Homo sapiens: one gene and its partners. The protein of the gene in region 3 purifies or fractionates together with the protein of the main gene of each other region. This does not show direct contact. Each region holds a gene or a part of one and is shown on either strand. Other genes may lie near its edges.

Evidence for each region.
Region 1: the proteins of UMPS (region 3) and HMBS fractionate together in Homo sapiens (co-fractionation; one large-scale study listed by BioGRID). This does not show direct contact.
Region 2: the proteins of UMPS (region 3) and AASDHPPT fractionate together in Homo sapiens (co-fractionation; one large-scale study listed by BioGRID). This does not show direct contact.
Region 4: the proteins of UMPS (region 3) and GNPDA2 fractionate together in Homo sapiens (co-fractionation; one large-scale study listed by BioGRID). This does not show direct contact.
Region 5: the proteins of UMPS (region 3) and ALDH5A1 fractionate together in Homo sapiens (co-fractionation; one large-scale study listed by BioGRID). This does not show direct contact.
Region 6: the proteins of UMPS (region 3) and GLO1 fractionate together in Homo sapiens (co-fractionation; one large-scale study listed by BioGRID). This does not show direct contact.
Region 7: the proteins of UMPS (region 3) and NAMPT fractionate together in Homo sapiens (co-fractionation; one large-scale study listed by BioGRID). This does not show direct contact.

Annotation. Positions count from the first base shown.
Region 1 is NC_000011.10:119,090,664-119,094,565, reverse strand, and holds the end of HMBS (porphobilinogen deaminase), read right to left. Parts: intron 3,154-3,902; coding exon 3,040-3,153; intron 2,442-3,039; coding exon 2,403-2,441; intron 2,163-2,402; coding exon 2,043-2,162; intron 1,809-2,042; coding exon 1,755-1,808; intron 1,632-1,754; coding exon 1,545-1,631; intron 1,457-1,544; coding exon 1,283-1,456; 3' UTR 1,017-1,282; downstream 1-1,016.
Region 2 is NC_000011.10:106,080,391-106,084,707, forward strand, and holds part of AASDHPPT (L-aminoadipate-semialdehyde dehydrogenase-phosphopantetheinyl transferase), read left to right. Parts: intron 1-4,317. UniProt on the Homo sapiens protein: Catalyzes the post-translational modification of target proteins by phosphopantetheine.
Region 3 is NC_000003.12:124,736,170-124,740,486, reverse strand, and holds part of UMPS (uridine 5'-monophosphate synthase), read right to left. Parts: intron 2,920-4,317; coding exon 2,248-2,919; exon of another isoform or gene 2,044-2,247; intron 464-2,043; coding exon 288-463; intron 1-287. UniProt on the Homo sapiens protein: Bifunctional enzyme catalyzing the last two steps of de novo pyrimidine biosynthesis, orotate phosphoribosyltransferase (OPRT), which converts orotate to orotidine-5'-monophosphate (OMP), and orotidine-5'-monophosphate decarboxylase (ODC), the terminal enzymatic reaction that decarboxylates OMP to uridine monophosphate (UMP).
Region 4 is NC_000004.12:44,719,514-44,723,830, forward strand, and holds part of GNPDA2 (glucosamine-6-phosphate deaminase 2), read right to left. Parts: intron 2,730-4,317; 5' UTR 2,695-2,729; coding exon 2,571-2,694; intron 1-2,570. UniProt on the Homo sapiens protein: Catalyzes the reversible conversion of alpha-D-glucosamine 6-phosphate (GlcN-6P) into beta-D-fructose 6-phosphate (Fru-6P) and ammonium ion, a regulatory reaction step in de novo uridine diphosphate-N-acetyl-alpha-D-glucosamine (UDP-GlcNAc) biosynthesis via hexosamine pathway.
Region 5 is NC_000006.12:24,529,032-24,533,348, reverse strand, and holds part of ALDH5A1 (succinate-semialdehyde dehydrogenase, mitochondrial isoform 2 precursor), read right to left. Parts: intron 1,231-4,317; coding exon 1,172-1,230; intron 1-1,171. UniProt on the Homo sapiens protein: Catalyzes one step in the degradation of the inhibitory neurotransmitter gamma-aminobutyric acid (GABA).
Region 6 is NC_000006.12:38,696,010-38,700,326, reverse strand, and holds part of GLO1 (lactoylglutathione lyase), read left to right. Parts: intron 1-4,317. UniProt on the Homo sapiens protein: Catalyzes the conversion of hemimercaptal, formed from methylglyoxal and glutathione, to S-lactoylglutathione. Involved in the regulation of TNF-induced transcriptional activity of NF-kappa-B. Required for normal osteoclastogenesis.
Region 7 is NC_000007.14:106,260,413-106,264,729, forward strand, and holds part of NAMPT (nicotinamide phosphoribosyltransferase precursor), read right to left. Parts: exon of another isoform or gene 3,254-4,317; intron 3,206-3,253; coding exon 2,980-3,205; intron 1,296-2,979; coding exon 1,176-1,295; intron 1-1,175.

The DNA of each region.
Region 1 (3,902 bases), on a different chromosome or scaffold from region 3:
CTAAGGGGCTGCGGGGAGGCCGCAGCACCTTCTGGAAGACTTGGCCTTCCGCTCTGACGCAGGGCCGAGGTGGGCAGTCCAGGCCGAGAGGCCGGCGGCCCTGAAGGTGAGTGAGGCCCTCGGCAGCTGCAGCCGGGGTGTCTGGTACCCCCCCGGCGTGGTGCTTAGCCCAGGACTTTCAGACGCGGCCGCTGGCCGGGAGGCTTTGGTGGGAGAGACGCGATCGCCGATTTCGGTCTGGCGCCCCTTCTGCGGCCGGGACCCAGGCCTTTCACATCAGCTCTCCCTCCATCTTCATTCATAGGTCTGCGCTGGGGCCGGGACGAAGCACTTGGTAACAGGCACATCTTCCTCCCGAGTGACTGCCTCCTAGGAGGACATTTAGGGGAGGGCAGAGGCCTGCAGTTTGGCTTCACGGCTGGCTATGTGGACAGCAAGAGTCGTTTTCGCGGAAGCCGACTGGCAGCCAGGCCTGTCGGGCCCCCCGACGCCGCCCCATTTCCCTTCCAGCAAACTCAACTCGGCAATCCAAGCACCTAGATACCAGCACAAGTCGGTTAATCCCTGTCTGGACTGAGCCTCCGTTGGCTTCTGAACTGGAATTCTGCAGCTAACCCTTCCACGACTAGAACCTTAGGCATTGGGGAGTTTTAGATGGACTAATTTTATTAAAGGATTGTTTTTTTTTTAAATGGAGCGTTTGTTTTCATTTTGCAAGAGAGTTGTAGAATTAGTGACTTTCTATACTTTCCTGATAATAGGGGTGGGAGGGGCCATGCAATATAAACAGGCTCTACTGTTAACTGAAGGGGCAAACCATAGGAATTTAAGATTGTGGCTCTGTTTCTTGGTGTTCCTGGGAGACAATTTATTCTGTGTGAAATGAAAACTATTGAGGCAGAAGCAGAAAGGACGTACCAGGAGAACTCTGGGCAAAAGTCCCAGCCTCTGAGGTAAGGATGAAAGGGCTTTGTGTTTGTTCCTATCTTCCCGCCAACTCCACACGCGCACACACAACACCTTCAGAACTGGTTTATTAGTAGGATTGGTTACATTCAAAGGCTGTTGCTTGGACTTCTCTAAAGAGATGAAGCCCCCACATACTGAGGAGGCAAGGCAGTCATCAAGGCCCCAAGGTGAGGCAAATCCCTGGAAGGCTTGAACCCTGCAGTTCAGTCTCCCGGGGTAATCACTCCCCAGATAGCAGTGAGAATGGGGCACTGAGGCCCGGGATGTAGGCACTGGACAGCAGCAACCCAGGCATCTGTGCCCCACAAACCAGTTAATGGGCATCGTTAAGCTGCCGTGCAACATCCAGGATGTTTTTGGCTCCTTTGCTCAGCAACAAGTTGGCCAGGCTGATGCCCAAGTTCTGGGCAGCCAACTGGGGCCCTCGTGGAATGTTACGAGCAGTGATGCCTACCAACTGTGGGTCATCCTCAGGGCCATCTTCATGCTGTATGAGGGAAGGAGGTGGGATTTGGTGAGAACAAGAGATTATATGCACTCTTGTTTATTACCCCCTCGCCCTCCAGCTTTGGTACCTGGGCAGGGACATGGATGGTAGCCTGCATGGTCTCTTGTATGCTATCTGAGCCGTCTAGACTCCAGACTCCTCCAGTCAGGTACAGCTGGGGAAGAAAACAGTTGCCTCAGCACAGTCTGAGAGGGGACTACCTAGAAACCTGGGATGCACAGGAAGAAATGCCACAGTCCTCCTTTCCCTGGCTTCCCGCCCATTTCCCCCCACTTACTTGCCCATCCTTCATAGCTGTATGCACGGCTACTGGCACACTGCAGCCTCCTTCCTGTAACAAGAAGTTCTTGTGAGCTGCAAGGGCTCTTAACACCACCCTGTGACCACAGACCTGAGGACATCACTGAAAAGGCAACTGTGGGCCCAGACCTGGTCCTATCCATACACAACATTCAACAAGAATGAGTTAGCACTGTATACAGAGCATTCATGTAAGAAATCTTCCCTGCCACCTTTCCCAGCTCTCCAAGTCCCCAGCCCTCCACAGGTGGAGCACAGGCCCTACCAGGTGCCTCAGGAAGGCCCTTTCAGCGATGCAGCGAAGCAGAGTCTCGGGATCGTGCAGCACACCCACCAGATCCAAGATGTCCTGGTCCTTGGCTCGCACTTCCACGCCCAAGGCCCCCTGATGGAAAAACATCCTAGGACATCAGGCCTGATCTTTCCCCAACCAATGGCGCAAAGCATGGGACCACCTCTATCTACTTGCTCCCCAGCGCCTTTTGGACCGGTAGCATCCCAAGGTCTGCCCCTCCCTGAGAATGCTATTCTGGGGAAGCAGATGCAGAAGGTTGTGAGACAAGCTTCTTGGTTGAGAACAAAGGGAAGGCATATGTCACCATGTGGCTTCCCTGGTCAAGTGTACCTGGCCCACAGCATACATGCATTCCTCAGGGTGCAGGATCTGTGGAGGCGGAACAGGGAGTCAAAAGGGTGGACACGGGGGTGTCTAAAAGCACCTGGCAGTGAGATGGGAGTTCCCTATCATCTAGAAAGCCTGGGTAGGCCTAAGTGTGAGTCTGGCCTCTTTTTTTTTTTTTTTGTAAATTTTCTCCATGAAAGCCTAGAGTCTGGCCTCTGATTCACAATCTTCCCAGCCTACGGTGTTAGAGGTGGGGTGGTCAAGAAGTGAAGACAGATGGTCCTTGACTTACAATAGGGTTACATCCTGATAAACCCATTGTTAAGTTGAAAACAAGCTGAAAATGCATTTAATACACCTAGCCTACCTTACATGTGCTCAGAACACTTAAGATTAGCCTATTATAGTTGGACAAAATCATCTGACACCAAGCCTGTTTTACAATAAAGTGAATATCTCATGTAATGAATACTGTACTGAAAGTAAAAAACAGAATGGCTGTATGGGTACTAAGTACAGTTTCTACTGAACGTATATCGCTTTCACACAATCATAAAGTCTAAAAATCCTAAATTGGGGATGACTGTAAGGCAGAAAGGAGATGCAGATGAGCTGGGGAGAGGATAGGGGCAGGCCCTACCTGCCCCACCCGGTTGTGCCAGCCCATGCGCTGCAGGCCAGCTGTTGCCAGGATGATGGCACTGAACTCCTGCTGCTCGTCCAGCTTCCGAAGCCGGGTGTTGAGGTTTCCCCGCTGTGGAGAGTTGCTAAGGACCACAGTGTCGGGCAATCTGGGGCCTCGTGCGGTTCCCTCTGCCTGAGTCTGTCTTTCCCTCTCTAGCTGGCTGACTTTCAGTCATCTTCCAGCTCTCAGCTTAATGTTAACAGCTAACAGTTACATCATACTTACTACATGCCAGACACTGCTCTAAAAGTACTTTCCATATGTCAGCTCATTTCATCTTCACAACAACCCTGTGAGGAAGGTAGTATTATTATCCCCACTTTACAGATAAGGAAAATGACATAGGGAGGCTAAATAACTTGCCAAGGTTACAAGACCTCTGAGAAACCTTCCCTGACACCCCAGACTTCTGTGTTTAGATGTTCCAACTAGAAGTTTCCAGAAAATTCCCAACTTCACTTATTGGAGCACTTAGCACATACTATTTTTAAATTTAGTTTTATGAAATGTACTACATATTCATTGTAAAAGTCAAGACAATATAGTAGCATATAAAAATGGAAGTACTGACCGGGTGCGGGGCTCAAGCCTGTAATCCCAGCCCTTTGGGAGGCCGAGGCTGGTGGATCACCTGAGGTCAGGAGTTTGAGACCAGCCTGACTAACATGGTGAAACCCAGTCTCTACTAAAAATACAAAAATTAGCCAGGTGTGGTGGCACCTGTAATCCCAACTACTTAGGAGGCTGAGGCAGGAAGATTGCTTGAACTCAGGAGGCAGAAGTTGCAGTGAGCCTAGATTGCGCCACTGCACTCCAAC
Region 2 (4,317 bases), on a different chromosome or scaffold from region 3:
AAATGAGGAGCAAGCATTATTAAAATATTTAAGTTGCTTATATATTGCCTTAGAAATTTGTTAGTGGTGGCTTTAAGGACCACTAACATTTGTGGTGAAGTTGAATGTACCCAGGCAATTTAATACATACTAAATACAGGTTCTCTTAACTGCTGTATATTTGTCATCATCACTAACATTTAATGAACACTTAACCACGTGTCATGGCATTTTACATAGTGCTTTAGACATATTCTGTGATTTAATTCTCTCAACTACCCTATGATGCATATACTGCTATTTTTAAAGAAAATAAGTAACAGGCTAAGAAGAAAGCTATTAATAAAAGAACCCACATCTTCCTAATTTCATAGTAAAACTATCTAATCTCCATACTGCCTGCACCATATGTGGTTTGAATATGTGGCTCTCTCAGTCTGTAAGGCTTGTATTAATTTTATCTCTCACTCCCATTTCTGCATAGAGAACTCCTATTTACTTGTTAGATTTCACCTTAACCTTACTTTAGGGAAGCTTTGTGAGCCTTCAATCTAAGCTAGGTTCTTTTGTTGTAGGTTCTCATAAAATATATTTTCCTTATTCCAGTAATGTATCTCAGTTGATTATTCATCAGGATGATTGATTATCTTTTCCTGATACTTAAAAGCTGTGTGAGAGCAAGAACCATGTTAGCCACATCAGAGTTTGATCACTATCACATCTCTTAGTACCTTGCCTAGCATGTAATAGTAAAATATTTGTCAAATGAATGAATAAACACTGTGCTGTTAGAGTATAGGCTTCAGTGTGGTTGTGAATCTCTTCTCCCTTTTGCTTTTATTGTCCTTACCTTGCATTTTCCTACTAGCTACTCTTTCTCTTACCTGCTAATAAACCTTTCCAGTACAACTCTATTCTCAGGTTTGTTCAGAACAAGGCCCTACTAGTGATTTTGGAAACCTTATAACAGATTGTTGATCTGATTCCCTGGATAAGATTCCAGGAATTTTGTTTACCTCCTGAAACTGTATGCTACATTTTGTATGATATGCACATGTGCATTTTTCTTGGGAAAGGATCTGGTATTCAACAGGGACATAGGTGGCTTACTCTAAAAAAATTGCTGCTATAGAGGATTCTTAGCATGGGAATTAGCCCATATATTCTTGTAGCTTTCTGCTGTCATTACAGGAACTTTTTCTAAAATCAGAAATGGAAAGGCCATTGTTTTTTAGAATGCAGTCAGCACAACTACCTGGTAATAATTGGCCCAGTGGGTTGGTATCTGCTTGGAAATGATACTTCTGAGAAACAGATTTTGTTACCAGTTAACTTGATGGGCAGTGTTGGCTATGGTCAATGCTAGATAAACAAGTAATTAATAACTGAAGCTTTTAATAAATGATGGTGTTCTCACTCATAGATGGGAATTGAACAATGAGAACACATGGACACAGGAAGGGGAACATCACACTCTGGGGACTGTTGTGGGTGGGGGAAGGGGGGAGGGATAGCATTAGGAGATACACCTAATGCTAAATGATGAGTTAATGGGTGCAGCACACCAGCATGGCACATGTATACATATGTAACTAACCTGCACATTGTGCACATGTACCCTAGAACTTAAAGTATAATAATAATAATAATAAAAAAGAAAAATAAATGATGGAAAGACAATTGAGCAAAAATTTAAGATTTAGTTTTCCTGTTAATTGTGTTATTAGACCTCCCCCCACCAGTTTTTTTTAGTTGATCTTACTTGACTAATCACAATGTCTAGGCCTTTTCCTTTTCTTTATTTTGTTGTGAAAAAGCTGTTGCTATGTCCAGTAACACAGAAAGGAAGAGAGATTTTCCAATTGTCACTAGTGTTGTTACCATGCTACTGATTCCTGAAGCATCAATGGACACAGCATGATTTCTTAATGAAGATGGGAAGTAGACACTGATTTGCTTCATTGGAGATTCTTTGAATTGCTCTACTTATTGTAGTAAGTGAGGAGATTGAGCAAGGGATTTTTCCTAAGAGTCTTGCTAAATGATGCTAGGCAAAACTTAGGAGAGCAGCAAGGAAAGTACTCTGTTTTGTACTAGGCATTGTTACTAGATTGCCAACTCTAAAGACAGAGTTGGCTTTTGGGGGTTATCATTAGTGCATTGAAAGAGTCAATTCCATTACTCTGTCTTGTCCTATAGGTAAGAATCCACTAGGAACTCAGAGAGTCTTTTTCTTTCATGGTGCATTAACCATTTCTGCTGAGTGCAGCTCATTTCCCTCCCTCTACCTGTTCTCCCAACTGTTGCTGTGGACGTGCAGGAGAGAACATACCTAGTATATAGCCTACCATATGCCAGGACGGTACATTCTTACTCTTAGGAAGAATGGTGTTTTCCTGGTCTTCATCTTAATTTATTACCCTCTTTTGGAAAATTTTGGTTGGTTTTCCCTTTGTTTTCTAATTTTTTCTACCATTAAAAGTGTTTGAAGTGATAAGCATAAAGGGTAACTTTTGAATTGTTTAGTTTTGTGACCATATTTACAAAGTAAGGCAAAATAAAATAGACAAAATACATAAAAATTATGATTGAAATTTGGGAAAGGACCAGAATTTTCCCCCTATGGTTTTACATGTTCGTCTTTACATTTTTAAAATAAACTTTGCTGGACTTTTTTTTTTAAATGCACTTGGGATTTAAAACCTGTAAGTAGTTTTAGAAACTCACACATCACTTTGTACTCTGAATTCCTTACTGGAAAACCAAGTCTCCACCCTCAAGGAGTTTTCCTCCTTCCCAGTTACAGGTCGGTCTTTTTCCTTTGTCAGTAGGATTTGATTGTGTAACTAGTATTTATTGAGCAATTCCTACAAGTGTGTGACACTATATTAGATGCCTAATAGGTATTATTTCATCTTTGTAAGACTAGTGCGTAAGTACTACTGTTATTTTATATAAAAGGTTAAGACATTTGTCCAAGTTGACTTAGCTAAAAAGTAAAACTTCATATATTTAACCACTGCTCTCTACAGTATATGGCCTCTCAGTATGAGATTTTATTGATTCCTATTAAAAGAATTTGCAGATACCAAAATATGAAAAATTCTGTGAAACTGGGTTACATACATTTAAAGTTGTTATGGAAGAACTAATGACTAGGAATATGAAAAATATAGTAAGGGTCTTGCCTTACCAGTTTCAAAAACTTGTGTTAGTCATTGTAAACTAAAAAGAGTATGGTACTAGCGAAAGAATAGACAACTGGAAGAGTTAATCTTAGAGCCCAGGATATATACATATTTCAATTCAGTGGATAAAAGATTATTTATTAAATGGTGCTGGTAGAATTGGTTAGTCATGTGGATGTAACACATACTATATACACCAATTTGGAGGAATTAGAAATTTAAAAATAAAAAAGTTTAAAATTTTAGGACAAAATATAGTTGACTATGATGTCGAGTTGCAGTAAATCTTTTTATGAATTCTTTTCAAACGAGACAGAGTTCAGAATTTATCAAAGAATGGATATTTAAATTTAAAAAAATTATATTCCAAAAATATAACCAAATACAAAAGATAAATAATAGAATAAGGAAAATTCTTATAACAAATTTGGTAAGGTGTCAATATCCATAATATATAAAGAGCTTCTATGAAGTGATTAGAAAATATTAATAGGCACGTTACAGAAGAACAAATTCAAGCAGTCAGTAAGCTATTACCTTAATGATTAGAGTAATGCAAATTAAAGTAACAGTGAGGTGCCCATCAGATTTGCAGAAAATTGGAAAAAAAACACTTAGAGCTTGTGAAAATGTCGGAAAAGAACAATCATATAGATGGAAACACTAGAAATTGCTACAGGCTTTTTGGAAAATAATGTTAAAATTGAAAATACACATAGTCTTTGATTTAGCGATCTTGTTTATAGTACTCTATCCAAAATATTTATGAATAACAACAAAACCTGAATGCTGCTAATAGAAATTGGTTAAATAAATTAATGGTGGATGCATTCTGCAGATAATTATTAGCTGTAATAAAAGAATTAGTTAGGTCTATATGAACCTGAAGGGACTTAGAATATATATATATTTAATATTATAATAGAGACAGGGTTTCTCCATGTTGCCTAGGCTAGTATTGAACTCCTGGGCTCAAGTGATCTGCCTGCCTCAGCCTCCCAAGTGCTAGGATTACAGGCGTGAGGTGTGAGCCACTGTGCCCAGCCAATATCACATCATAGAAAAATATATATAGCAGAATCTTTTTTTTTTTTGAGACAGAGTCTGGCTCTGTCGCCCAGGCTGGAGTACATTGGTGCTTGGCTCACTG
Region 3 (4,317 bases):
ATCTTAAAGTCCTGGTAGATTTAGTAAGTGTTTGTTTGACTAACTATCTGGGTCTCAAAGTTTCTCTTGGAGTATAATTCAAATTCCTGAAGTGTCCACTACATGATATAAAATGCTATTAACTATCAAGGAATTCTATCCAACTAGTATTAATATACTGTCACACTAACAAGAGCTGGATTTTTTTTTTGGCAGAGGTTCCAGAAACGCCAGATTAGGAGATATCTTCTTGCAGCATGCAGCATAGCAGCCCCTGCCCCCTCTCACCCAGTCCCCCCACCACTTACCGCTGCTCTAGTGTAGTCCCCAGTGGCCAGGGAGCCGGTGGAGCTCATTTCCGCAATAAGGAGGCACCCCCGATGCAAAGGCAGGCCCACTTCTTGCAGGCCTTTCACAACTCCTGAGCCTGGCACCACGTGAGCATTTACTAGATCTGCCCAGGAAGCTATTTTAAAGATACCTCCTAAGAAGAAGGGGGAAAAAAGATATTTGCTGATTTTCAAACAAAACCTCTAACGTCTTGTCCAACCAACCAACTACAATATGAAATAATCTCCCAGTAACATGTTAATGAGAGAATCAAAACTCTTCAGGAACTTTAGTGATTATCAGCAGACCCATGGTTCCATCTGTGAAAACTGTATCTGTTATTCAGGTAAGTAGCTGGGTGAGAGATCACAATGAGAAAAAACTTTCAAGGTCTGCACTTGGCTTATCTGGAACACTAACAGGACTCTTTTTCCTTGAAGGCTGAAGCTCATGACCACAAATAAAGCTCATGCTATTAGAAAGGGACTCCAGTGAAGATAAACATTTATTGATGTCAAGGATAACATTTAAAAATTCCTCTTGAAGCTGGGCATGGTGGCTCATGCTTGTAATCCCAGTACTTTGGGAGGCTGAGGTGGGCAGATTGCTTGAGTTTAGGAGTTCGAGACCAGCCTGGGCAACATGGCAAAACTCCATCTCTACCAAAAATACAAAAAAATTAGCTAGGTGTGGTGGCGCATGCCTGTGGTCCCAGCTACTTGGGAGGCTGAGGTGGGAGGATCACTTGAGCCCAGGAGGTGGAGGTTGCAGTGAGTCAAGATTGCACCACTGCACTCCAGCCTGGGCGACAGAGCAAGACCCCATCTCAAAAAAAATAATAATAAAAATAAAATTCTTCTTGAAGATGACAAGTTTTCACTCTGCAGGGGTCTCTCAGCAGCTTTACTATCGCTCAATATTTCTACGTGTTCCTTAGATCTCCTTAGCTATCTAATTTCAATAGGCAACTATATTCCTTTTAAAAGCGGACAGTAACAAGCCTGATTTTCGAAAAAACTCTATGCAGAGCTGAAGAAAGTTTGTATAAAACTCTTATGTCAGTCAATCAGCTAAAGTAAGCTAGGCAATGTGATGAGGGCAGGACATCTTAAGCACATGAAGAAGTCACTTAAAGACAAATCTATTTTAAAGAAATAGCTTATGAACATGCATACATTAAAGAAAAGTTACCTCAAAGATGCCTACAAAAAATGTTATATGACACAACCAAATATCTGTTACCAGGTTAAGTGAAAAATGCATTAAATATAGTCTGATCACACAGTTGTAAAAACATAGACAGAAATTTGCATAGAATAGGCAGTAGAACTAAGCATTTTTCTCAACCAACACATGCACTACTTTGAGTCCCTATTTGATAAAAGAAAAATCTTTAAATAATGTTTATCAATAGAACTTTTTCTGCTACAAATAAATCTTACCATTTTATATTTCTTTTTCATTGTTTCCTTTATGTGGAATTTTCATTCAAAACATCATATTCTGCCAAGGACATCTGTCAAATTTGCTTGCCCAGGCACATACCCTTCTTCTGGTACTAGCACATCCATTTTCTTTAAGGAAATTATCCCTGACTGGTTCTTATTTCAAGAAGGTCATACAGAGTTAACAACCTCACAGTTGCAGAGCAAATTGCCCAGGCTAGTTAATGAAGGTATTCTACATCCCAAGCTAGAGTGATTGGTTTGGGGTGAGCATGCAGAGTATGCCTACCTGAGAAAGAAGTCAACAGAGAAGAAAGCAGAGCTGAGAGATGGAGAGAAAGCAAGTCATGAAGATATCACTTGAGCTCCTGGATCCAACCACGCTTGACAGCCTGCTCTATGAATGGACTTTCAATGACATGAGCATTTCCTTTTTCTTCTTCAGTTTAAGCTGGATTTCTGATTCTTGCAGATTCCTGAATAATACACTTACCTTCATACTGCTTTTTCACTGTGTTTCCTATATCTGCAAACTTCCGGTCTTCAAATATCAAGAACTCATGGCATTTTGCCAGAGTTATCAACTCCTTCATCACATCCAGAGTAAAATCATTCAAAATATCTACATGAGTCTTCAGCATGCAGATACTAGGTCCTAAAGCATCTGCTAGCTGCAACAGCTCTCTGGCCAGTGAAACATCAGCAGATAGACACAGATTGGTCTCCTTCTTTTGCATAAGCCTGAGAAGCTTCGATGCAACTGGGTGGATCCTGGGCAGCTCTGCACGTGCACCGAAGCTGAGTTCTTTGGGTGCTTCCTTTATAGAAAGGGGAGAACCATTATGATTCGCTGCCACAAAGACATTCTCCTGAATAAACCTCTTCACTCTCCCAACTGTCTCAGCATCAACTTTTTTCTGCTGCTCGAGAATCTCCAGCATTTTGGACAATGTACACACTGAGTGGAGGCGGATCCCGTGCGCCTGCAACTTGTCCTTGCCTCCCTGCTCTCTGTCCAACAGCACTATGGCATCAGTGACCTTCAAGCCCTCCTTCTGAAGAACCTCAACAGTTTCCAAAACACTAGATCCACTGGTGACAACATCTTCAATGATTAAACAGGTTTCTCCTGGATTAATAGTTCCTTCTACAAGACGCTTAGTTCCTAGAAAAGAAAAAATTTTGCTGATTCCAAATTTAAATATGTATGTATATGTGCGTATATACGTACACACACTCTGTATACAAAACTTGCCAGTTACACATACAGTATATGTGTATACCAATTCTGTATACCAAACTTGCTAGTTGCACATACAGTATATTTATGTATAAAGCCAACTCTGTATACCAAACTTGCCAGTTACACATACAGTATATTTATAGTAAATCAAGTAAATTATTTCACATTATAAACACTGCTTAATGTGTTTTATGATCAAATTTTCAAATAGAGAGGTTTTTTTTTTACTTTAAAAAAATCTGTTTTATCATAGAGATGAGGTCTCACTATGTTGTCTAGGCTGGTCTTGAACTCCTGAGCTCAAGTGATCCTCCCGCCTCAGCCTCCCAAAATGCTAGGATTATAGGTGTGAGCCACCACGTCCAGCCTAAATACAGAGTTTCTTACAGCAAGATCACCTAGATCAAGGAAAGTTATGAAACAGAATAATCCAGTATCATGAATGAAATAATTCCTTTTTCCATCAAAGTATTTTAAGTTCACTATTCAAGATCAGCCAAATAATTGACTTTTTGAAGACACAAATTCAGAAGGAAAAATATTCAGCAATCATTTAGACCCATTACTACAATCTAAAGAATTATATAATGCAATGTGATTAAATATATACTTCTCTACCCAAATCCCACTAGACTATTTTCAGATAATCTACAAAACGTAAATAACTTGGGCTGTAGACTTTAGACTCATCAAATCCTTTCCGCTTCTTGAACAACTGGTAAGTTTAACTGAATCAGCTTAAGCTAGAACACAAGACTGCAAGTATTTATAGTATATTTAAAAATGCATAATTTCATAGAAACAGTTTTTAAAACATAAAATAATAGAAATAAGAGTTTTCTTATGGGTAGGGATTCATACAGTTTTTTTTTAGCTCAGAAAGTCTCAGCTGGGTGCAGTGGCTCACACCTGTAATCCCAGCACTTTGGGAGGATGAGGCAGGAGGATGGCTTGAGACCAGGAGTTCAAGACCAGCCTGGGCAACAGAGTGAGACCTTGTCTCAAAAAAACAAAAAACAAAAACAGAAAAACTAACACTGCCCTTACGCCACAAAAACTCAACTAATATGTTTCTTTTTTTTAATCATAAAAATTTTCAGAATGCATCTGTAGAAGAAGGATTTGTTTTAAAAAAAGTAACAAAACACTAATAAACCAACATAAACAAAAAAGCCCATTAATTCCTTACTATCATTAAGATTGCTTTTCAGGTTTTATTTATTTATTTTTTGACAGTCTTGCTCTGTCACCCAGGGTGCAGTGCAGTGGCATAATCATAGCTCACTGCAACCTTCAGCTCCTGGGCTCAAGGCATCCTCC
Region 4 (4,317 bases), on a different chromosome or scaffold from region 3:
AATTACAATTATTAATTTAAAAATTATGTAGTAAAATTTTACGTTTCTCAACAACTATAGCCCACTAACATGAAACCTGTCTAAAAGATGGATAAATATGCTTTCCCTCTTCCTTTCTCGAAGGATAAGTGAATCTCTTCTCTCTTTTAGTGTCAAGAGATGAGTTATAGGAGTCTCTCAATTTAAGGATATATGAATAAAAAGGTGAGCTGTCACAATGGAGGTGACAAATTCATTTTCTATTTTGTAATCAATGTGGCCAAAAAAAAAGACTGAAGAAAAAAAAAGAACTGGTTAAAGAAACTTAATTTTTATATTTGCTTTGTAATAGTCATTACTAACACAATTTAGCAAGTACCTACTATGATTTATATAAAACAAAGATTAAGACATTTTCTTTAAGAACTCACAATATAGGGATAAGCAAGTACAAAATAACCATAACACAGGAAAAACATTATAAATAATCTAAAAGAAGTCTGAGTATTGCAGAACATCAAATAAAAAAGACTACAATCTTGCGAGTTGGAAGAACAATAAAAGAAAATGGCATTTCAATTCAGTCTTGATTAAGGGATACACTTTCAACAAAGAGGAAACTAACTCAGAGCAGAGAAAAGATGGAGCGGGAGGTTCAACGATGACATCTGTCTACCATGTGGCTAGATGCTGCGCTAATGTTTTTATATATTACCTCACATAAAGCTCACAATCTTGAGAAACTGGCATTATCTTTCCCATTTTGAAGACAAAATAACTGGGTCAAAAAGATTAAGGAATTTGCCAAATGTCATATGGCTGTGAAACCAGGGATTCCAATCTAGATAGGTCTGGTGCCAGAGTTCATATAGATTCCATTAAATAACATGCTAGGAATATGAGTGAAAGCAAAGCAAAGCAAAGCAGCCAGCAACTTCAAGCCTATTCTTGAACTGCAAGCAGTCAAATATGCCTAGCCCAGTTCTGTGTAAGGAGATGGTGGGAATAAGTTTTGGGAAGCAGATCAGGTTCACAGCATGCAGGCCTTTAAATGTCAAGCTCATTAAGGTCACGTGAGTAAATATAAAATTGAACAGATATTGCCCAGAAATTGCGCTTGATAGGGAGATAATTACAATGCAGCCTGGTACAAGCAATTACCGACATGTATGTTCAAGTCTCAGAAGCAGTGGGGGAAGAGGACATAATTAACTTGTCGATGGTCAATGAAGGAGAGTAATGGAAAATTTCAACAAGGTTTTCCAGAGATCCTCACTTGGCAGGTATATTACTAGCAGTTATACTACCCAAAATAAAGCAAACGTTGTAGATCTAAATACACAAAAAGATGTTTAGCACTGCTGACATTTAAGACTAAGTCTTTCTGTCCCCACTCAAATTACTGTTTTTTTCTGCATCATAATTAACACAATGTTATTAACAGAGGTAGGCTGAGTGTAATGAAGGGTAACAGTATAGAAACTATACAGAAACCACGTTCAACCCCAAGGGGTCACATATCAGAACTGAGGGTGCTGGGGGTGTAGTACTGGTGTGTCCAGTGAAAAAAAAAAAACCCTTTTGCCATTCTCACCAAGATCTACTGCCCTGGACCAAAAGAGAAAAAGCAAAACAAAACAATCAACTTGAAGAGTACCATTCACGGAAATTACTCAAGTGGGAAAAAATTACAATTGTAGTTTTTATGTAATTACCATGTATGAGGGGAGGAGCTGGAGAAAACAGTCTGTTTAAATAAAACACACGGGAACTATAAATTTATAGACTACAGTATACAAGGGACTTACACATACACTATCTTAGCTGAATCTCAAAACAGCATCTTAAGTTATTATCCTTATCTTTCTTATAGGTAAGGAAACCAAGGCTCAGGGGTATAGAACAAATGCCTTGTAGTCAATAAGGAGCAACTTTAGTTCCAGGTCTAACACTCTGTGAAAATCATGGGTCAAATAAAGTGCCATAAGATCAAATGACACCACCTAGTCGTTTTTTAAGAGAATGCTTAATGGAAAACTGAATTCAATAAAATATGTAATTACTGTGATGAAGATATATTTTTCACTTGTAATACATCTATAATAGAAGAAGCAAATAGTAAAAGGCTAATAAACATTATATAATATATAATTTATAACTTCTATATTAATAAGGATTTATAAGGCAGGTGAAGTTAAATTAAGAGGCAACAGTACATACCTTAGGTACCTCTTAATGATTAATAAGAAAGCCAATCAACTAAAAACTGGTATGAATGGTAAAAGCAATGTTCCCCAAAACAAAGGACTACTAGAAAAATGTACAAAAAATATGAACAACACTTAAGTTACAATATTTCCTATTGCATTTTGGAGTGACAGGTGAGACTAAATTTTGGCACAAGAACTAGTAACACATTGTAGATAGTAGATTTTATATATATGCATTTTTCTGGCCTTTTATACTATGATGTTCAATTAGTGACATGCCAATAAATGAATGGGGAAAGTATCTTAAAAGAAACCCTTCAATTCCATCAGAATTAAATTTAGATAATATCAGAATATAAAATGGAAAAAGTAGTTAATTACCTGTTGGTAAACCCAGTGTAAAATATCTGTCCTGTCCAGGTTTGAACTGAATGATGCGATTACAGATGTATTTGGCTGCCCATTCACTAGCCAAGTCATAGTTATCAAGAATTACAAGCCTCATTACGGTGACGCACAGCTTCCAGAACAAGTTCAAACCTGAGAAAAGTCCATTGTAGAACACTTTACATAATAAACAGATAATTTAAATTCAGTAACTTTTTAAAAGATGTAAATAATAAATAGAGCACTGAAACAGAATATACTGATGATTTTTAAAAGTACATTACTGAAGAAGGACATGCACATATACAATCTGAATTTAAAAAATAGTAATAGCTGTTCTCTTTTGAGCAGACACTGAGTTTAAGGCAGTGGGCTAGGTCATTTAAGTATAGTTAGCCTTCTGTGGATTCCATATTCGAGGATTCAGCCAACCAAGAACTGAAAATATTTAGGGGAAAAAGATGTTTGCATCTGTATTAAACAGGTACAGACTTTTTTTTGTCATTATTCCCTAAACAATACAGTATAACAACTATTTACACAGTATTTACATTGTATTAGGTATTATAAGTAATCTAGAGATAAAGTATATGGGAGTATGGGTGCAGGTGATATGCAAGTACTATGTCATACAATATGAGGGACTTAAGCATCTGTGGATTTTGGTATCTGAAGGGGGATCCTAGAATCAATCCCCAACAGATACTAGGGACAAGTGTACATATTTTAATCCTTACAACCATCTTGTGAAGTAAATAAAATGCCCAGTTATAGATGAGGAAATGGACTCACATAATTTGACTAAGGTCACACAGGTAGTAAGCAACAAGGTCAGAATTCAAATTATAACAATAGGATCACACTAGACATGTTATTTTTAATAAGAGAATTCAACAGAAGAAAAAGAAAACAAAGTGAACTAAATAAACTGCTCATCTCTGGAGGAGAAATTTCTTGACAAAAAGCAATTTTAGTTCCTCAAAAATTATTCTAAAATTAAGAAAAATTATTATACGTATATTAAGAGATCGGAGTCACTTAAAAGCTACATAATTCCATTTTACACAATGTAGGTTGACTTATACCATGAAAGATGTGGAAATCAGCATTCTTACAGTAACTCACAGCTTCTGTTATCTGTAAGACATATTGTTTTCCTTTTTTTTAAAAAAATGGTATAAATTTAAGGGGTACAAATGCAATTTTGTTACATGGATATATTATTTAGTGACTAGGTCTGGGGTTTTGGTGTATCTATCACCTGAATAATGTACAATGATCCTAGCAATTTCTCATCATCTACCCACTCCTACTCCCCAACCCTTCTAAGCCTCTAATATCAGTCTACTTTCCATCACCACGTGTACACATTATTTAACTCCCACTTGTAAGTGAGAACATGTGGTATTTTTCTTTCTATTTGGGAGTTGTTTCACTTAAGATGATGGCCTCCAGTTACTGCAAAGGACATGATTTCATTTTCAATGGCTGAATTTCGCGGTGTATATATATACCACATTTTCTTTATCCAATCATTCACTGATGGACACTCAGGTTGATTTCTTATCTTTGCTACTGTTGTTATTGGAAGGAAGGTCATGAGTGTGAGGTGTCCAGTTCCTTGGCATTTTGAACAAAGAACTGCACAAAAGGAACGAAACACAGGAATGAAGCAGCGAAAGCAGGGATACTGAAGCAAGAAAGCACCCCATGGGGTGGGAGTGGGCCCAAGCAAGCGGCT
Region 5 (4,317 bases), on a different chromosome or scaffold from region 3:
TCATCTCAAAACCTTTGAAAGTCACCTCTTGCTTCAATTCTACTCTCACTATCTCCTATCGAGACCCTCTTCCTGTTTTCTACTATTCAATCCACCTGCACACCTGTTAGATTTCCACACGACATTTTTGCCCAAGCCTTTCGATGACTCCTGATTATAAAATAAGGTTAAATTCATTAGTGGGTATTCAACACCCTCTCCCCCACAAGTAGTTTCAATCAACATTTCTGGCTTCATCTTCCATTACTCCAATCACCAACCATCCTCTCCAAACCTGTCAGCCAAATTCTCCTCACCCTTTCTTACTTTGCTTCTCAACTCCCTTGGTGCCCTCTGCCCAGAATCTCTCTCCTCCAGCTTCTGCACAACCAGAATTCTGCCCATCATTTATGACCTAGTTCAGGGTACGTCTTCCTCCACCATCACCCCATCGAGAAGGAAGAGACAAATGCTGAACTCAGTGTTATAAACGTCCTTGTGCACACATCTTACTCCAGCTTTACGATAACTCTAAGGGACCTCATAGCATGCTTATCATTCCTCTTGGTATAAATAGTTCTCTTACAGCTAGAGGGGAAGCTTCTATAGAGCTATAGTGGCATCTTGTATGTCTTTGTATCTTCTGCAGTACTTCATTTGCTGTGGATGCTATTACATAATTTTCTCAGGGTTATAGAGTACATGCAGTGACCACCTGGCCCATCTCCAAACTAAAGGAATGTCAGCCATCAGAGAGGCACCTCTGCACACACCATCTTCACTCCTTTCATTGTCCCTGACACTCCTTGCTGATGCCCTTCCTCTTCTGTTCAGGCTTACAGGAGCCACGCAAAAGGGAAGAAAAAGCATTTGGAATTTCTGGGGATTAAGCCTCTGAGAATGTGGGACTTTGAGATGTGTGCAGTTCTCCACCTAGAAAAGTAGAATAATGTGCACCTTCTCTTCTTCCCACAGCTGTAATTAGAGAGCTCCCAAATGTGTATCATGGGGACAAGGGAAAAGTACACATACTTGCACAAATCCAAATCCATTCCACCACTTGGAAAGCAACAAAACACATACCTCATTGAAGTTTCTGTCTCAAAACCCAGGGTGATGTTTAAAAGGGTAAATCTGGCATGAGCTGGAGAAAAATGATTATGACTGGTATTGAACAAGGACAAACACCTACCTGCTAACCCAACATCAGCTGCGTTAGCGATTGCTATAGCCTCCTCCTCTGTATCGAACCTGCCAAAGTTAAGATAGGTCATAAAAAATGTAAGGGGGAGAGGAAAGGAAACCAGTTTTGTTTTCTTCTGATTTGTTTCCCAAATAATCACAAGGAGTAAATCAGAGTTTTGCAAAGAGATCCAAGAGCAGATTGCAGAAGAAAGCAGCACCATTCCCCGATATAACTCAGCGATTAAGGCTAGCATGCTCAAATCAATACTGGCTTCATCTCTCCTAAGAGAACAAGAAAAAAGCAGACCAACATGTAGGGAACTGTGGCATATCCAGAATATCAAACAAAATCCCTTTAAAAAAAAAGGATTACTATTCTTGGTACCCACTGGGAATATATAACAATCATAACAACTACTTTAGAAGCAAGCCTGATGTAGCAGAAAGAAAACGTTCAGAAGGGGTTGGGGCCAGGTTCTAATGTGTCCTCCACCACTGCTTAACAATGGCACGATGCTTGGAGTCTCCTCCTCTCTGAAATGAAGGAATGCACCAAAGCCCAGGCCATCTCTTCTAGCTTTAAAATTTTATTTCAGGAATAAGATGTCAGTGATATTTTTCTGTTGTTCCAGAATTGTAACTGGGGCAAAAAGTTCTAAGCACCCCAATTTCTAAATTCAGAGATCTACCAGCAGTTGGAACCAGCTGTCTCTCTGCAGGGCTTGCAAAGGGGGACTGGGTAGAGCCAGCTCCGAAAAGTCAATTTGTCCAAGGGTACACAGTTATGAAGTAGCAAAGTCTAGAGCTACATCATAGTCAACTGCAAAGCCTGCATTCTCAACCAATGCCTTCCGTTGGTTTCCTGTGAAAATGTCCAGTTCACATTTTATGTAAAAAGTTTTTATTAAAACAAAGAAGATGAAAGTTCTTCAAGGGTCCATTTCCCCAACAGTGGAATAAAAATAAACTTCATAAGCAAGATGTAACAAGGCCAGTGAAGTACATAATAAGAAAGATTTCTGGTCCTGGATAAGACGGTACAGATAGCACCAGCTGCCAGCTGTCTCTGTGAACCCAATGCTGGACATGCCAGAGGACAGAGAAAGAGAATCATAGTCAAAACCAACAACAACAGCAACAAAACCTCAATCGGAAACTAGCACCAAAAATGCAAGACATTTCTGGAGGCCAATAAATTGGTTGGATCCTGGGGGAGAATGATGGCCTCACGTGAGAGCGAGCTCGAGACCACCCATGCAGGAGTGGGCAGGGCAAGGGCAGGGCTGCACGTCTCCTACCACGCCTGTGAGTTCCAGGTGATCCTGCCTACAAACCTGGGTCCCTGGATCAATGCGACATTGCTACAGGTAGAAAAGCAGCAGGGCTGGCTTGGGGCAGTGAGCCAGTGCTCGTGCCCAGCAGGTACACCAGCCATGGGAAACAAGTGTAGGCAATGGCAACACCAGCAGCCTCTTCTCCCCAACCTATTCCAATAGAGGGAACTGCAAAATACCCCAGCGGAAAGGATACTTGGGGTGGAGGAGTGGCACTGAGACTGGATTTTAACACTAGAGCCATCCTCAGTGAGGCTCAACCCTTTGCCCTCCAAATGTATGAGGAGCACAAACCAAGGCCTAAGCTTTTTACCACAACCCATGGGAGATATTACAAGCCAAGGCTGCCGACGGTGCAAGGGGTTAAAGATGAGCTCACAGGGAAAATTACAAGATGTCTGAGGAGCTCTGAGACTAAGAAAGATAAAGCAGCACAACCTATACCACGGGAGACAGAAATGGTGGAAGAGAATAAAAATGTTTTTTTTAAAAAGGAAAAATAGCCACAGCAAAGTAGGGGAGAATAATGAAGCAGGAAGAATCAGTTATGGGGAAGAACCCACTGGAGATATCAGGGATGGGAAAAACAATTGTTGAGATAAAGATCTTGGTGGGTGGGATGGAAGCCAGAATGAGTATATCTGAAGAATGCATTAATATGCTGGCAGATGAGGGGAGGGACTCGCAGAAGGCATCAGGAATGAATCAGGAATGAAGAGATGGAATGAAGAGACAAGAGAACTAGGGCACAGAAGTAGAAGTATCACAATAATAGACTACTTGGAAGGCTAGAAAAGCATAAATGAAAGGAAGAAGAATATCTGGAAAAATAATGACAAAAAATTTTCCAGGACTAAACAAACCTGTTAGATATTAATGAGCTGGGCATGGTGGCTCACGCCTGTAATCCCAGCCCTTTGGGATGCTGAGGCGGGTGGATCACTTGAGGTCAGGAGTTCGAGACCATCCTGGCCAACATGGCGAAACCCTGTCTCTACTAAAACTACAAAAATTAGCAGGGCCTGGTGGCGGGCGCCTGTAATCCCAGCTACTCAGGAGGCTGAGTCAGGAGAATCGCTTGAACCCAAGAGGCAGAGGTTAAACTGAGCTGAGATCGCAACACTGCACTCCAGCTTGGGTGACAGAGCGAGACTCCATCAAAAAAAAAAAAAAAAAAAAACCCAAACCAAAACAAAAAAACCGTATTAAAGATATTAGGACCTCAACTGAAAAACCTCACTGTGTGCCATACCAGATAGTAAAATTTAAGAACATCAAAGATCAAGAGAAATTCTAAATGTTTCCAAAGAGAAAAAATAGATTTCTTTCAAAGAAGCAAGAATCAGATTTCTTGGCAATAACCCTGGATAAAAGTAGATAAAGAGGCCGGGCGTGGTGACTCACACCTGTAATCCCAGCACTTTGGGAGGCTGAGGCTGTTGGATCACTTGAGGTAAGGAGTTTGAGGCCAGCCTGGCCAACATGGTGAAACCCTGTCTCTATTAAAAGTATAAAAATTAGCCAGGTGTGGTGGCACATGCCTGTAGTCCCAGCTACTCGGGAGGCTGAGGCAAGAGAATCGCTTGAACCCAGGAGGTGGAGGTTGCAGTGAGCCGAGATCATACCACTGCACTCCAGCCTGGATGACGGAGTTAGACTCCATATCAAAACAAAAAACAAAAAAAAGAAAAAAAAAGTGGATAAAGGAGTAATATCTCCAAAGGGTTGAACCTAAAATTTTATCCAGGTAAATTATTATCTACTTGTGAATGGGAGATAAAAGACCACAAAACGACACAGAAAGTTCATGTCCTATGGA
Region 6 (4,317 bases), on a different chromosome or scaffold from region 3:
AAAAAGATGGTGGTGATGGGCCTATGCCTTGATAGATTGGGTAGGATTCCAGCAGAGTACATGGGAAGGCATTCTGATGAAGGAAACATCTTAGCAAAAATGTGTTTTGATACGGGGGGAACCCACCCCAATATTTCAACGTAGGTTCTTTCTATTTTCCATAAGTATTGGCCAGCTGAGAAATAAAGAGTACAAAGAGAGGAATTTTACAGCTGGGCTGCCGGGGGGTGACATCACATATCAGTAGGACTGTGATGCCCACCTGAGTCTTAGACCAGCAAGTTTTTATTAAGGGTTTCAAAAGGGGAGGGGGTGTAAGAACAGGGAGTAGGTACAAAGATCACATGCTTCAAAGGGCAAAAAGCAGAACTACTAATAAGGGTCTAACAAAGATCACAAGGCAAAGGGCAAAAGCAGAACTACTGATAAGGGTCCAACAAAGATCACAAGGCAAAGGGCAAAAGCAGAACTACTGATAAGGGTCTATGTTCAGCAGTGCACGTATTGTCTTGATAAACATCTTAAACAACAGAAAACAGGGTTCGAGAGCAGAGAAGCGGTCTGACCACAAATTTACTAGGGTGAAGTTTTTTCCCCACCCTAGTAAGCCTGAGGGTACTGCAGGAGACGAGGGCGTATCTCAGTCCTTATCTCAACCTCATAAGACAGACATTCCCAGAGCGGGCGTTTATAGACCTCCCCCCAGGAATGCGTTCCTTTCCCAGGGTATTAATATTAATATTCCTTGCTAGGAAAATAATTTAGCAATATCTCTCCTACTTGCACGTCCGTTTATAGGCTCTCTGCAAGAAGAAAAATATGGCTCTTTTTGTCCGACCCCTCAGGCAGTCAGACCTTATGGTTGTCTTCCCTTGTTCCCTAAAATCGCTGTTTTTCTGTTGTTTTTCAAGGTGCGCCGATTTCATATTGTTCAAACACAGTTTTACAATCAATTTGTACAGTTAACACAATTATCTCAGTGGTCCTGAGGTGATGTACATCCTCAGCTTACGAAGATAACAGGATTAAGAGATTAAAGACAGGCATAAGAAATTATAAAAGTATTATTTGGGAACTGATAAATGTCCATATTAAAATGAAATCTTCACAATTTATGTTCCTCTGCCACAGCTCCAGCTGGTCCCTCCATTCGGGGTCCCTGACTTCCCACAACAGTTTTAGGATGGTAGAATTGCAATGCAGGGCAGGTACTGGAGAGTTAGTTAAATGTTATTGGTTGCAGTTCAGGTTATCTAAGCAGTGGTGGAAGAGGCTAACATGGTAGGTTGGGGCCAGATTGTGGAGACAGCTTTGAGTGTCACATCTAAGGAAGTTAGATTTTATATACATAGTGGGGAATGAGTCAGGGTTTTGAAGTATTCTATAAAGTAGATTGGAGGGATCCAAGTCTGGAGGTGATTAGGCCACTTAAAAAGCTCTTCCAGAAGGTGAGATAAGTGATATGAGGGTCTCGTTTGTAAAGAAGACAGCAGCAATGGCACAAAGTCGACTTGTTTTTTGATCATTTGCATCTTCATTATAAAGGAAGTCCAGAGAATGTATGGCTATGTCACATTTTGGGCAATCTCTCTGGGCTAACTTTCTTTAAAAGGTCAGATTCTCCTGGCAACAGAGAGAGACTCCGTCTCAAAAAAAAAAAAAAAAAAAAGGTCAGGTTCTCCTTCCAAGTAGTGATCTGGAGATCTTTTCTTTTTTACTATCTGTATCTGTCTCCACTAATACAGTAGACAATGTCCTCAGTGTTGCCATTATTTCTACCACCACTGCCAATGTCCATTTTCACATCGTTCCATATATAAATATATGAATATATAAAAATATAAAAAATTAATATATATTAATATATAAATATATCTATAAATATATGAATATATATATATATGATGGGGTCCCTCTCCAATCAGGTAGATTGGTGGAATTGAATGCAGTAGAAAGGAGAATAGGGAATGGAAAGGAGGAAGGAAGAAGGACAATGGCCAGATAAATGGCTGACTATTCAAGGCATAGAGAATCATAATATATATAAAGGCATAATGACATCAGAGAACTGAGGCAGGGACCTACGGGTAACACAGTGAATGAAGTTATAAGCAGTGGGACTTGAGGGAAGGGTGACCAAAACAATCATTAGGGTACTCAAAGAAAAGATGAGAATTCCCATTATATTCATTTGTTTTTCTCACCCTGTAATGGTTGCTATTTAAGTGATAAGGGTATGAAATAGAAAATGTTTGAGATGACCGGTTTAGGGGAGTGGTGATAACCGTTGGTGTTAGAGAAGTATGCAGCTACATATGTGGTTGCTTTTGGGACTGTCTCTCAAATGTGTTGAGGAACCACTGAAGTATTGATTTTTAAGCCAAAAATGACATGACAGGGTTTTCTTTATGGAAAGATCACTCCAAATTGCATGTAGATAAGCCTATGAAAAGCAAAGAGATAATTGTCTAGGCAGGAAGTAGTGAGGACTTCTTGCTTTCCTCAAGATACACTGAAGGCAGTTGAAAAGCTCATTTTTAAAAGTCTGGTGAAAACCACTTTGTTCACTTTTGTTTTGTGGGAGATGTGACACCTAGTAATAAAGAGTTAACAAACCCTTTCCCCTTTTATGAAAATTTGACTTTTCGTTAACTCCCTAGTTTCCCAGAAAACAATGAAAAATTGTGTTTGTTGCTTATGGTAAAAATAACCCAATTGGTAAATTGCATCTGGAGAGGGAGAATTGTAAATACTTGAAAGGAAGCCATAGCTTTGGACTTCCCTGATTGTAGTGACTCTTATAACTGTCCCTTGTGGAAATTCTAGAAGTTCTGCCTATGGAGTTGCTACTAGAGATACTGGCTCCTGTGGTACATGGGGCCTTCTGCCCTAGGGTGATTCTCATTCATATCCAGTGTGAATCTTCTCCCTGTACCTGATCTGTGTCGACTCCTGTAAGGACTCCCACTGAAGAGGAACACCTGATACTTCTTTGTTGGCAATCTGTGTTTTCCTAACAGATACCGTTTTGAGTAAACTGGCACCATGTATGGCCTATGGCTATGGTTGTCTTATAAGTCTGGATGTTTAGTTGAGCCTTAAGAAGACTTTCTGGGCCAGGCCCGGTGGCTCACGTCTGTAATCCCAGCACTTTGGGAGACCAAGGTGGGTGGATCATGAGGTCAGGAGTTCGAGACCAGCCTAACCAACATGGTGAAACCCTGTGTCTACTAAAAATACAAAAAAATTAGCCAGACATGGTGGCGCGTGCCTGTAATCCCAGCTACTCAGGGGGCTGAGGCAGGAGAATAGCCTGGGAGGCAGAGGTTGCAGTGAGCCGAGATCGTGCCATTGCACTCCAGCCTGGGCAACAGAGTGAGACTCCATCTCAAAAAAAAAAAAAAAAGAAGAAGGCTTTCTGTTGGGGGCAATATAACACTTTTGAAAGTTATTTGAGAGACAAAGTAGATAGTCTCTAAAGGGAATTGGTCTCAGTCTTATTAAGGTCGAAAGACAACATTTTTTAAACCAGAGAAATTTTTTAATTTCTGAAAATATGGCTAATGCAAGTGTGGAACTTCTCCTTTCTGCAGACTGAGGGTAATAAAGGTGCTATGGTCTGAATGTTTGTGTCCCCTCAAAATTCATGTGTTGAAATCCTAATCCCTGAGGCAGGTATTAGGAGGTGGGGCCTTTCAGAAAGTGATTAGGTAGGTCATGAGGACAAAGTCTTCATGATTAGGATTAGCATCCTATAAAAGAGACTGTAAAGAATGATCAAGCCCTTCTGCCATGTGAGGTCACAGTGCAAAGGTACCATCTATGAGGACAGACACTAAATCTCCAAGTGCCTTGATCTTGGACTTCCTAGCCTCCAAACCTGTGAGAAATAAATGTCTGTTGTTTATAAGCCACCCAGTTTATGGAATTTTTGTTACAGCAGCCTAAATGGACTAAGATAAGAGGCAATGGAGATTTTAACTTTAAGATGTAACCTCTTACAAAGCTCTCTAGTAATACTTCTAGAGAAATAAGTATCTTCATCACTAGAAGCAAATTTGAGATTTTGTAGGGAGAAAACACAAAGTCAAACAACGTTTTTATCATTGTTGTAGCTTTTTGACCAGTTTTGATTCATCCTGAAAATAGACATATTGTAACCAAATACACTCATATCCCATTGTGGGAGGCAGTTGTATAAAATTCATTTAGAGACTCTGCTTCTGACAAGATGAAGTAGACATACTTTTCCTTATTCCTCCTGCTAAGTACAACTAAAAACTCTGGACATGATATATAAGACAAACATTGGAAGAC
Region 7 (4,317 bases), on a different chromosome or scaffold from region 3:
CTCTGGATTAGGCTTTAGCCTAAGGAAATGTTGTGGTTGCTTTGATCTTCTATTCAGACCATTCAAACTTTCTCCCTAGCAGCAATAAAGCTGTTTCACTTTCTTATTCATATGCTTAGTGGAGTAGCACTTTGATTTTTCTTCAAGAACTTTTCCTTTGCATTCACAACTTGGCCTACTGTTTGCCTTAAGAGGCCTATTTTAGCTTTCAGCATGCCTTCCTCACTAAACTTAATCATGTCTAGGTTTTGATTTAAAATGAGAGGGATGTGACTTTTCCATTCACTTGAATACTCAGAGGCCACTGTGGGGTTATTAATTGACCTAATTTAAATACTGTTGTGTCTCAGGGCATAGGGAAACTTGAAGTGAGCAGAGAAAGGGAATGGGTAACTGGTGAAGGAGTCACAACACACACAGTATTTATCAATTAAGTTCACTGCCTTATCTGGGTGTGCCCTGTGGTGCCCTAAAACAATCACAGTAGTAACATCGAAGATCACTAATCACAGATCACCATAACAGATATAATGACAAAGTCTGAAATATTGTGAGAATTTACCAGTATGTGTCACACAGACATGAAGTGAATACATGTTGGAAAAATAGCACCAACAGACTTGCTCAACACAGGGTGGCCACAACCTTCAATTTGTAAAAAAATGCAATGTTTGCAAAGCACAATAAAATGAGGTACGCCTGCATAACACTTATACTATCTGGCTAAATCTAATACTGATGACAGTCAATGCTTAATTTAGAAGAGGTGGCAGCTATTCTATAATTTCTGAAAAAGCACCCATTAATATTATGAGTTTTACAGATTTGTGAAGCTCCAGTCTATGAAAACTCAGACCTATGCCAGCAGAGTCAAGGCTTTGTTTTATATTCCAAGGAATATTTCTTGACTGACATTTCCTTGTTTCACAATGATACTTCTTTAGATTCATCATTCAGGGTGGCCAATGACAACTGGAAGAGTAAGTATGGCTTGGCTGGCACCTCTGTATTTTAAACTACTATTATTTCTAAACTTTAAGCAATGCACAGAGATTTATACCAACATAAACACTTACAAAGACTTAAAATTGTATTTATATTGTGTTCTTTATCAAACATAAACAAACTTAATTATAAGAAATGCCTTATTGAAACTTTTAATATAAAACACATACCTCTTGTAAGGTATTAATATCTACTCCATCCCCTTGAATAACTCTAAGATAAGGTGGCAGCAACTTGTAACCCTTTGAGTTCTCAGTAACAGGAAACTTCTTACCTAAAATCTCCAAAACCTATATGGAAAAATACACATGCAACACAAATAACTAAAGCTGAAAACAAGTATAAGAGCTTTTCAAAGTTAAATGATTTTGCTTTGATAATCGAGAATATAAAAATTAACTACTTTAAAAATTTTATAACACTATGTATATGCTCTCTAAAATTTGGTCCAGTGTACTTTAAAGGGTTAAAGTACATTAAAAACAAGCATGTTATTTCCTATGAAGTGAATTCACATCATAAAGTGGCTCAAAACAAGTTTTTCCCCTTAGACCTTTCAAATTATATGGATTCAAGGAAAAAAAAATCCTTAATATTAAATAAGTATATTTTAAAGAAGTATATAAAGCATTATTTAACAAACTCATGATTATACTTTTAATTTGGACTTATTCTGCTTGTGCCCAATGACTTTGGTTTTTGTCTGATATATAACTCCAATATGAATCCAGTTCAATCACAAAGTTCAGAGAAACTGTGAAAGGCAGACACAGCATCTAGAACCCATAGTCTCTAAGTTCTCCTTTGCTCTTAAAGCCAAACTGCACAATACACAAATCATCTTACTCATTCACTAACTACTAAAAGTTTTGTACACCAAATTAAAATTTCTCAGAAAGCTTGGTCATATAAACAAAAGAAATACATTCTCTTCCCACAACAATCATTTCTTTTTCCTAAATAAACTGATTAAAGATTCTAACAAAGAGAAAATTCCCCATTGATGAAATCAGTTTCTCATAACTAGCTGTGTACATTTTTTATTACGTAACAGTAAAAACATGAAACCTATCAAGTTTGCTAAAACCAAATATTGCAGGCTAAGACAAGACTTTCAGATTGGCCTATCATTTAATAGAATAAGAAAAGACCTCCTTAATTCTGTTTCCCTTTCTTAAGGGGTAAGTATCATCTGCTCATTAACTGACAAATGGTGTGGTCAAGTAGCAAGGCTGCAGCCAAAAGACCTACACTGGATATCTGACTCCTTATCTTTCATGTTGTGTGACCTTGAGCAAGTTACTTTAACCTTTTTAAGCCTCTGTTTTTTTCTTCTATAACAGAGACAGTAATATTTATCACTGTTTTTTTTTGTAGAGATTAAATGGCGTATCTTATGTAAATCACCTAAAATATTTTTCTAGTAGTAGGCATCAAATAAGCCTGCTATTACTACTTTTTGAAGAAGATAAACCAAGTCCTTGAACATTAACAACAAAAAGTAACACTGCTACATTATGAATCAACAGTATTTCTAAAGAACCTCCACTTGAAGAGTATTTTTGAATTATTTTTATTCCACATCACCCTGTTCCTATTTCTTCTGTGCTAACAACTTCAAAGGTCTAGCAGTGACTTATGCTGAAAAAGAAACAAACTGCAAATAAGTTTGGTGCCCAAATCATAGGATTAATTAAAATGGCAATGCTGTTAATTAATTTTGCAGGTAAGCAGAAAACAAAATATCTATTCAAATGTCTAATTGACAGTAAAACAATCCATAAGTCTTGGTATCCTTCTGTGCTATTACTGTGTGACCTCAGGCAAATCTATTACTCTCTCTGGGCTGCAACTCTAAAATAAAGGGGACTGGTCCACACAGCTCTGAAATTGTGTGTATATAAATGAAAAGTAGTATTGATGCAGCTGGCCTACAGAGGGATTCTAATAATAAAGTTACATATGAAAATTTACCTTTAACACAGTGTCAAGAGGGTTTCCAGAATCAGGTCTGATTATTAGTGGTGCCTGTGTACTTCTTGATACTATTAAATGTCTTAGATCTTCACCCCATATTTTCTCACACGCATTATAAATGTCATAGCTATCGCTGACCACAGATACAGGCACTGATGAAAACTGTGTTACAATATGTTCAAAAGCATCTTTTTCATGGTCTTTCCCCCAAGCTGTTATGGTACTAGAAAAAAAAATGAAAACACAGATTTACTTAGGCAGACACTTGATCTATCCCTGAATCACCTTTAATCATATCTCATGTTTACTATACCAAACCATCAACATCACAGAGAAGGTGAGTGACTTAGTTTAATGAATATACATCGTAAGGCAAATGAAGTAGCTGGGTCAACCATACCTTACCCAATTAGTTTTTAACGCTTTAAGTAGCCTTACTCCTCTTCAATGGTTAAGTTTCTAACCTCGTATTTTCAACCAATTATCTGTGTGTGTGTGTGTTTTCTGGTATTCCTGAATCTACTCATTTAAAATCAGTCTAACTAAAAAGCACTTGCTGAGTGCCCTTTATACTGTATGTCAAGATGTTAGAATGAATACATATTTCCATTATTTTGTTAGGCAATGAGAGCACCTGGCTCCCTTCTGTGAATTTTTGAAACTATATACCAATAATAGTACAGACATACATTTTGTTTTTTTACCTTTCAAAATCTTATACTTAGAGGCAATTATTTATACTATACCATACATACATATAGTCAACTACCTGTTATATTTTCAAGTGGCTAGTAATAGGAAGTCATGTATTTTGTTTGCAGATTATCTACTACGAATTAATATATGCCCAGGGAATAAGAATTCAAATACTTAGTTTAAGCAAAACATAATTAAGATGGAAAATAAAGTATGAGAGTTTCTATTGGATAAGAATGGTTATAGTGATTTTTGCAATGTCCTTAATATCAGTTCTTACGGGATAGATTTGTATTCAATATGTAATTATAGATTGGGTATCGCTTATTTGAAATGCTTGGGACCAGAAGTATTCTGAATTTCAAATTTTTTCAGATTTTGGAATATGTGCATTATACTTATCAGTTAAGCATCCCCAGTTCTGAAATCTGAAATCCAGTTCTGAAATCTGAAATGCTCCAATGAGCATTTCCTTTGAGCAAAAAGTTTCAGATTTTGGAGCATTTTGGATTTGGGATGCTCAACCTGTGTAAATATTTGTTAATATATAATGTAAATAATTTTAAAAGATCTCAAACAACTTAATTTTGAAAATTACCATTTAATTATGCCAAGCAATTGGTCATTCTCCCTAATTTT